3 separate regions of the Homo sapiens genome follow, and all the other regions are linked to region 2. Evidence: fine-mapped expression QTL. A gene starts in region 2. Each other region holds a variant in brackets. All regions are shown on one strand. Distances are from middle to middle. Region 1 overlaps KRT20 (keratin 20). Region 2 holds the start of KRT10 (keratin 10). Region 3 has its middle 21 kb from the start of KRT10.

The links.
Region 1: its variant is fine-mapped to the expression of KRT10 in whole blood (INTERVAL, PIP 0.96).
Region 3: its variant is fine-mapped to the expression of KRT10 in neutrophils (CEDAR, PIP 0.95).

The regions. Positions count from the first base shown.
Region 1 is chr17:40,882,448-40,885,084 of GRCh38, reverse strand. KRT20 (keratin 20) reads left to right here. Exons shown (of 8, transcript NM_019010.3): 1 at 1-289; 2 at 2,431-2,513. All of the region lies in intron 1 of LOC105371777 (a long non-coding RNA gene), which reads right to left. Among named protein-coding and RNA genes, the nearest start is that of KRT20, 1.5 kb to the left of the region's middle. The variant G/A (reference allele first, on the strand shown) is at 1,231.
Region 2 is chr17:40,821,028-40,823,848 of GRCh38, reverse strand. It overlaps KRT10 (keratin 10), which reads left to right and starts at 1,235. Exons shown (of 8, transcript NM_000421.5): 1 at 1,235-1,890; 2 at 2,732-2,814. The coding sequence starts at 1,264. All of the region lies in intron 1 of KRT10-AS1 (KRT10 antisense RNA 1), which reads right to left.
Region 3 is chr17:40,842,284-40,845,104 of GRCh38, reverse strand. No RefSeq gene overlaps it. Among named protein-coding and RNA genes, the nearest start is that of KRT10, 21 kb to the right of the region's middle. The variant T/AGT (reference allele first, on the strand shown) is at 1,079.

The sequences.
Region 1 (2,637 bases), 61 kb before region 2:
CGTTTATGGGGGTGCTGGAGGCCGGGGCATCCGCATCTCCAACTCCAGACACACGGTGAACTATGGGAGCGATCTCACAGGCGGCGGGGACCTGTTTGTTGGCAATGAGAAAATGGCCATGCAGAACCTAAATGACCGTCTAGCGAGCTACCTAGAAAAGGTGCGGACCCTGGAGCAGTCCAACTCCAAACTTGAAGTGCAAATCAAGCAGTGGTACGAAACCAACGCCCCGAGGGCTGGTCGCGACTACAGTGCATATTACAGACAAATTGAAGAGCTGCGAAGTCAGGTGAGAGATGATGCTTGTGTTTCCTACTCTGTGTTTAGCTTCAAGATAAATCAAGAGGTTATCTATGTTAGGTAGGTCCAAATGGACTTTGTAAAGCAAATTAGGCTAAAATGTTACATCTATAAAAATTCTTTCATCTACCTTTAGTGCTGGAGTACCTGACTGTACAACAGGATGACCTTAAATCATGCTATTTTTAATGTTTAACACAATTACATACAAAATATGAACATTTTATCCTCCGGAATAAAATGAATCTTTGTCACAGCTTATCACATCAGGGCTAAATGTATAGTGAACAATCTTTCTGAAAAGAGCTAAAAATTAATTACGTGATAAATCTCTCTTAGTTTTTCACCTAGTCCTTATCAAGTTTTGAAACCCCAGTAAATTCAAAGACTTTTCTCCTTTTATTTAAGTAAATGTTATAATATGACTATTAGAATACTGTACTGCAGATTTAAATAGCAAAGTGATTCTGGGTGGAAACAGTGTGGCAGGAATATGGGTCTTAATGATGCCTGGATTTTTAAGTGCCCTGTTTAATAACATGACCATCAGCATCAAGCAGTTCAGAAACTACTTCTACAGTAATAAAATGTTCTATTGCCCCCAATTCATGTTTATTACAATCATATCACAACCTCCTCCTATGTCATCAAAAAAAGGGTGGAGCTCTGTATTTTATCAGTTTCATGGAATAAAAGCAGAAGACTTTGCTCCTAATTGAAAATTTCAGATATGACACAGAGCACTTGCTTCAAATTAAAGTTCTTATCTAATTAAGAAAAGTGTTCACTGTAATTTGTGTTAAGATTCATACTCCTTTAGAGCAAAGCGCATTTACTTACCAGCAAGTCTGTTTTTCTTGAGTTGTACTAAACATCAGGGCAATTTGATTCGGACTCCATGGGAAGTTACTTTGGAATTTTAGAAACTAT[G/A]GGCATGTGAAGCAATGGCATTTAAATAGCCCTTCCGGAATAAAGTTCATCCTTCGCAAGCTCTCACTAAAAATGTTCGAACCACACCTGTCTCGTGTTTCTGACTCTAGTTTGGTTCATCTGAAATACACAGGCACAGGCCATCCGTCCCATTGAGCTGGACAGTCCCAACCATAGGAAGCAGCCCTCTCCAAAACTGGGTCCATTGAAAGAGAAATGTCATTGTAACATCTTCTGCAAGTAGATTTTTCATCTATATGCCTCCATCATGCATTTCGTTCTTTCATGCATCATGTTCTTTCATTCAGCCAATACTGAATGAACACTAACTAGGTGCTGGGCACCATGCTGGGGACTGAGGAATATTATGGTGGACACAATATGATTTATGAGGATACAGGGATGGACAGAGGGACCAGCACACAGAGGGATAATGAGAGCACAGGCAGATCATCCAGTTCAGTTTTGAGAGCATCTGTGAAGGCTCCTATGAAGCAATGTTGTCGAACCTGAGACATGAGGGAGGAATGGGAGTTCACCAGACCACAGGGGCTAAAAGAAATGTCCTAAGTAGAAACATCAAAGGCAAGGCACTCAATAAGGTGTGATGACTCAAGTTGAGTTAAATTATCCTTCTGTAAAATCACAAGAAAGTAGACCAAACCCTGGGGCATCTAGAGTTGCATTTTATGACTCTGTTATGTTAAATAACTATGTCATTATTTTTTCTATATATTTTCATGTAGAAATACTTGAAATGAACATCATTTTTGACATAATAGTCACTGTAGCTGGGGATAAACTAAATCCTTGTAAACTCCTATCCAGTTGAAAATGTCATTCTTGGCCGGGCACGGTGGCTCACGCCTGTAATCCCAGCACTTTGGGAGGCCGAGGCAGGCAGATCACCTGAGGTCAGAACTTCAAGACCAGCCTGGCCAACATGGCAAAATGCTGTCTCTACTAAAAATGCAAAAATTAGCCGGGCATGGTGGCGGATGCCTGTAACCCCAGCTACTCGGGAGGCTGAGGCAGGATAATTGCTTGAACCTGGGAGGCAGAGGTTACAGTGAGCCGAGATCGTACCATTGCACTCCAGTCTGGGCAACAGAGCAAGATTCTGTCTCAATAAATAAATAAATAAATAAATAAATAAATAAATAAAAAAGAAAATGTCATTCTTTCTCATGTATTTTCCAGATTAAGGATGCTCAACTGCAAAATGCTCGGTGTGTCCTGCAAATTGATAATGCTAAACTGGCTGCTGAGGACTTCAGACTGAAGTAGGTTCCCTAATACGTGGCAAAAGTTTCTGAAAAAGAATTCCTTTAGTAGTCCTTCCAGATACTCAGCTTTCCATATCATTGTTGATAAAGGAAGCACGGTTCAATGTCCAGAATCCTGAAG
Region 2 (2,821 bases):
TAATAACCACCATTCCTATCTCAACAGCTTGTTCTAGAAATTTTTAAAGCACAGTATCACAAACAGCACTACATAATTGTAAAACATGTATGAATATATACATCCAAACAACAGCAATGTCATAGCCTATGGGTAGATATAATCTTATACAATGTACCAAAATCCCAATTTACTTCACTAGACAAACTGTTATACCAAATTCTGTACACAGTATATCCAAGAAAATGTGTTGTTTTTATTGAGAAACTGAACCTAGCTTGGGAACACATGTGCACAGTCTAGTTCATAATATTTGGTGCAAGTATCATTCTCTAATATAGATTTACATTTTTGCAAGCAAATTTTTACTTGCAATCATAACATATCCAAATTTTCCCTTTTTACTCAATCAGAACTTAGTGTAAAGTACTACAAGTTAGTTCTTCGGATTTCATGCTAAGAAAATAATGCAGATTTTCTGCATTATTATGGTCTTCACAGAAACCTTAACTATGATGAATTTAAAAGTGCAAAATAATCCAGGATAACTTTATGATTTCAGATTTTTTAATGTTAAAAATAATGCCATCATTAATTAGAAAATTCTAAAATCATTACTTCCACTTTCTTAGGCAAAATATCAATATACTCTCATTTGCCAAATAAATTAAAAGATCTCCTACAAACACAATCTCCTAAATTGTGGTTTTATGGCTTTAATGTTTTATGTGTGGCAACTATTGATGCTAGTTAAATTTTTAGAAACTTTTTCTTTTTGATTCCCTACAGTTGTCTACAAGAACCTTATTGTAGCATGATCCTGCCAGACTTTATGCTATTTGTTGCTCCAATTAAAACTGTTTAAAACATGAATTTGAAAAATCTTATTTTAACTATAATTTTGTAGCTGAAACTTTTTTTTCTAAACTTTGCAAACATTCTATGCAACCTGAATTAGTGCTGAGAAAAATGGATCTTAACGGTTGCTCAATGTTCTTCAACAGGTGAAAAGCATAATAAAACATGCTCATCTGAACTCCACCCATTTTCAATTTCAACATAGCAAACCTCCTGTTTATTCTTAGGGCAAATTCAAAATTGTACATATTAGGATTGGTTATTACTGAAGATAATTTATGCAATCATAAGCCAAAGATGCTAAGTTGGCAAAAAGAAAACAATGTAAGTAAGCAAACTCTAACACATGTGGACACACCCTCTCAGTATATAAAGGCTTGTCACTGTCCTTGGTAGCAGGCACTCCCTGGGCTAAACAGCATCACCATGTCTGTTCGATACAGCTCAAGCAAGCACTACTCTTCCTCCCGCAGTGGAGGAGGAGGAGGAGGAGGAGGATGTGGAGGAGGAGGAGGAGTGTCATCCCTAAGAATTTCTAGCAGCAAAGGCTCCCTTGGTGGAGGATTTAGCTCAGGGGGGTTCAGTGGTGGCTCTTTTAGCCGTGGGAGCTCTGGTGGGGGCTGCTTTGGGGGCTCATCAGGTGGCTATGGAGGATTAGGAGGTTTTGGTGGAGGTAGCTTTCGTGGAAGCTATGGAAGTAGCAGCTTTGGTGGGAGTTATGGAGGCATCTTTGGAGGGGGCAGTTTCGGAGGTGGCAGCTTTGGTGGGGGCAGCTTTGGTGGAGGCGGCTTTGGTGGAGGCGGCTTTGGAGGAGGCTTTGGTGGTGGATTTGGAGGAGATGGTGGCCTTCTCTCTGGAAATGAAAAAGTAACCATGCAGAATCTGAATGACCGCCTGGCTTCCTACTTGGACAAAGTTCGGGCTCTGGAAGAATCAAACTATGAGCTGGAAGGCAAAATCAAGGAGTGGTATGAAAAGCATGGCAACTCACATCAGGGGGAGCCTCGTGACTACAGCAAATACTACAAAACCATCGATGACCTTAAAAATCAGGTAAGAGGTATTTTTAAATCCAGCTTTAAGTATCTTGTCCATGTAATCCAGACAGATGAATCTTAAATTAAGCACAATGTGGCTGTTCACTATGCTTACCCATGTTACTTTCTTCCTTCAAAAATAACCCAGTCTCATCAAAGATAAACATCTGTGAAACTATGGTCATGGCAATCTTCATCCAGCAAGTGTGCTACTTGTCTTAAGAGGATGGGAGATTTACTAAGCACTTTTGAGGTTTTAATGAGCATACAATGAGTCCACAGTTAAAATATGCTAGGCTATTTACAAATGTAGAAACTGAAAAAAAAAATCATGATATGAATCAGAACAAAATGTTATTCAGACTGATAACAAGCCATATTCAGTACCAACATGGCAAGAAAAATAAATTTTCCAGTATGAAAATGGGACACTGCTTGCCTCTAAGGAATTTCTGAATTGTACCTATTGTGTACCAGTTCAGAGTGTATTTATTTATTAGTATTTATCATGAGTTAAACAAATGCAGGTGTGAGTCAGCCAAAGCATGGCTGAAATACATGGAAATCACATAGTCTAAAAGAGGAGGGCACACTTACAGGAATACATCTATATAATTCCAGTTAGTTTTCAGAAAGGAATAATTCGTGTACAGAAATACAAGACTGGAGAAATTCCAAGAGAACAAATAATTCAAAGTTAAGTATATGGGTAAGCCTGCAATATTTCATATTTAAAATAAAAAATTTTCCCAAGATTTTGTAAGAGAACAACATAAAAGTGCAGAGTGCATCTATGTCACTACAAAAGCCATATCTGCATCTGACCTCTTCTCAAATAACTGTGCCTCTCCCTCCAGATTCTCAACCTAACAACTGATAATGCCAACATCCTGCTTCAGATCGACAATGCCAGGCTGGCAGCTGATGACTTCAGGCTGAAGTAAGTT
Region 3 (2,821 bases), 21 kb before region 2:
AAATTTGTTATCTTTCCTACAAAAACTGCTCCCCCTTTGCATTCACATATCAGTCAATAGCATTCCCCGAAGTTCAAAACTAGAAACGTCTTGTCATCTTAGATGCCCTCCATCATCAACGGGCAAACAGCCAAGTCAAATGCCACCTTATCTATGACTATCTTCCCATTCTTATCACTGCACTGACACTTTTGTGAAATTTTCATTGTTTCTTCCCCTCCCCAGACTCTTGCAAATTCTCCCATCTCATCTCCCTTTGTCCAGTTTCCCCCCAATCCATCTAGTACACTGTCAACAAAGTTATCTTTCAAAAAATTAAGGTCATGTTCCTCCCCTATTTAGCAGCTTTCAACGGTCCACTCCATGACTAAGGGATCAAGTCCAAATTCCTTAAAATGGCATTACAGGTCTTTTCTTATGTAGCACAAACCTATTTTCCAGACTTATTTGTTGGCACTCACTCACATAAACTTTATGTCCCAGCTAAACCAAACTTTTCTCAGTTCTTGAAATACGTCGTGTGTGTTTATGTCTCCTTTATACTTGCTGGTCCCTCAGCCTAGATTTTTTTTTTCCCATACAATGAATTCTAAGTCATTCTTTAAGACATCATTCAAAAGACATCTCATTAAGTCCTCCAGAAACTGGTTTCTTTTTACTGGTGCTTCATATACTTTAGATAAATCTGTATTTCCAAACTCTTCATCCTATTTTGTAATTATTTGTGCCTTGTCTCCTACCCTTTGACCCAAAAGATATGACTTCCTTGAAGGTAAAGACCACATCTTACTTATCCTTGCATCCTCAGAACCCCAGTAAAATATATGGCATATGATATATATTCAGTGAACTGTACAAAAGATAGGACAATCAGAGCCAAGATACTGTCCCTTCCCTCCAGAAGGTGAGGAAAAGAGGCCTAGAGACAACAAAGTGCTTTTCCTGCTACAGTTAATTTTAAAGTCAAGTTGTATTAATTGGAAAAATACAGAAAAATATTTTCTTCAAAATTTTTACCACCACGGTGCCTGAAATTCCACTTAGATAAAAGGTGTTTTTTGTTTTTGGTGTGTGTGTG[T/AGT]GTGTGTGTGTGTGTGCACATGTGTGTTTGAGACAGAGTCTCACTCTGTTGCCAGGTTGGAGTGCAATAGCACAATCTCAGCTCACTGCAACCTCCGCCTCCTGCGTTCAAGTGATTCTCCTGCCTCAGCCTCCCGAGTAGCTGGGACTACTTTTAGTAGAGACGGGGTTTCACCATGTTGGCCAGGATGGTCTCGATCTCTTGACCTCATGATCCGCCCACCTTGGCCTCCCAAAGGTGTGTTTTTTAAAAAAATGTAAATAGCTTCAGTGAATACCTCTCCAACCCTACCCACCTTTGGCAGTCAGTCAGTAAGTCACACCTTAGACTGAATTAGACTCACCAGATGGTTATCCTCCTAATACCTATTCCCACACCAGGCTGAGAAGTCTCAGTATGTAAAGAGGAGAAAACAGACAAATGGAGCAAGTCAAAGGAGGACAAACTAAACTGGAATGTGGCTTTGGGGTACCAGGCAGCAACTTCAGAACACAGGATAGCTGGCAGGGGGTGGGAGAGTGGTGCGGCAGAGAGGAAGAGGGCAGCAAAACAATGACGGAAACCTCAGCAGGTACTGGTTCCTCTACTCCTCCCCAGAGATGGGGGAAACACCCTCTCTCACACTGAGCAAAAGCGGCCCCACCTTGGCACACAGGCTTGGTTCTTCAGGGAAAGAGCTCATCATCATAGTTACTTAACTCTGTTAACTCCTGTAACTTAACTACTCTTCCCACCCACTGCCCCCATAATCTTTCCTTTTATCTAATGAGGAGACAAGCAGGAGAGAAGTGAGCTTGTTTCTGTAGTTCCAATAGATAAGGCTGCCACAGATAACTAGATCTCCTCTTATTTTATTACCAGATCCCACCTGAGATATTCTCTTTCCTCCTACCTTACCTGCAGCAGTGAACAGGCAGCAGTGAACAGAGAGAAGGATTGGAAGAAAGTCCAGAAAGCTTCTGAACAGCTAACAATATGCATGCAGGAGTGTTTTCTGCTCTGTGAAGCCTGCACCAATACATGTTAAAGAAATTGAAGCAAAAGGCTGACCATGAGAATGTACAACCATCATTTCCGATTCAGTATCTGTACTTCTAAACCACTCTTTCTCCTGGCTTTCCTATTCTGACACTTTCTTGGTCTTGACCACCTCAATATCCAATCAGTAATCAAATAATAATTATTATTCTTTCAATCAGCTTATTTTTTCTGTGTCCATGATGACATATGTAGACACTAACATTCTCCTAACCGATTCCCTTGCTCCATCTCTCCCAAACCAATTAGTATACTTCCAACAGGCTAATCTTCCTGAAGCAATACTTTTCTTGAGTCACTGCCCCTCTCAAAAGCAATCTGAAGCTCCAAATTGCTTATCAGGGGTTCTTAATTTTTTTTTTTCCTAAAGCAGCTCAAGGACACAAAATATACCCAATAGTAACAATTTATTTGCAGTGGTGCTTGGCAGGGGAGGGAATGAATTCTGAATCTCTGGGTGGGAGTGTTATGTTGTGTGTGATTTGTGAAACTTCCCCAAGATAAATGTGATAAGTAGAATAATAAAGGCACACACAGAGTATTATGGGTACAGAAAGAATGTGACTATGTCCTTTTCCAGCCATTTTTTCTCTTCCTATGATAGAAATCTCCATATCCTTTCCCAAGAGGGATAAGGAAAGGAGGGACCTTAAGGGGAAATCTCTTCTGAGGGTATCAACATGTTTCTGACCTCGATTAGGCCAA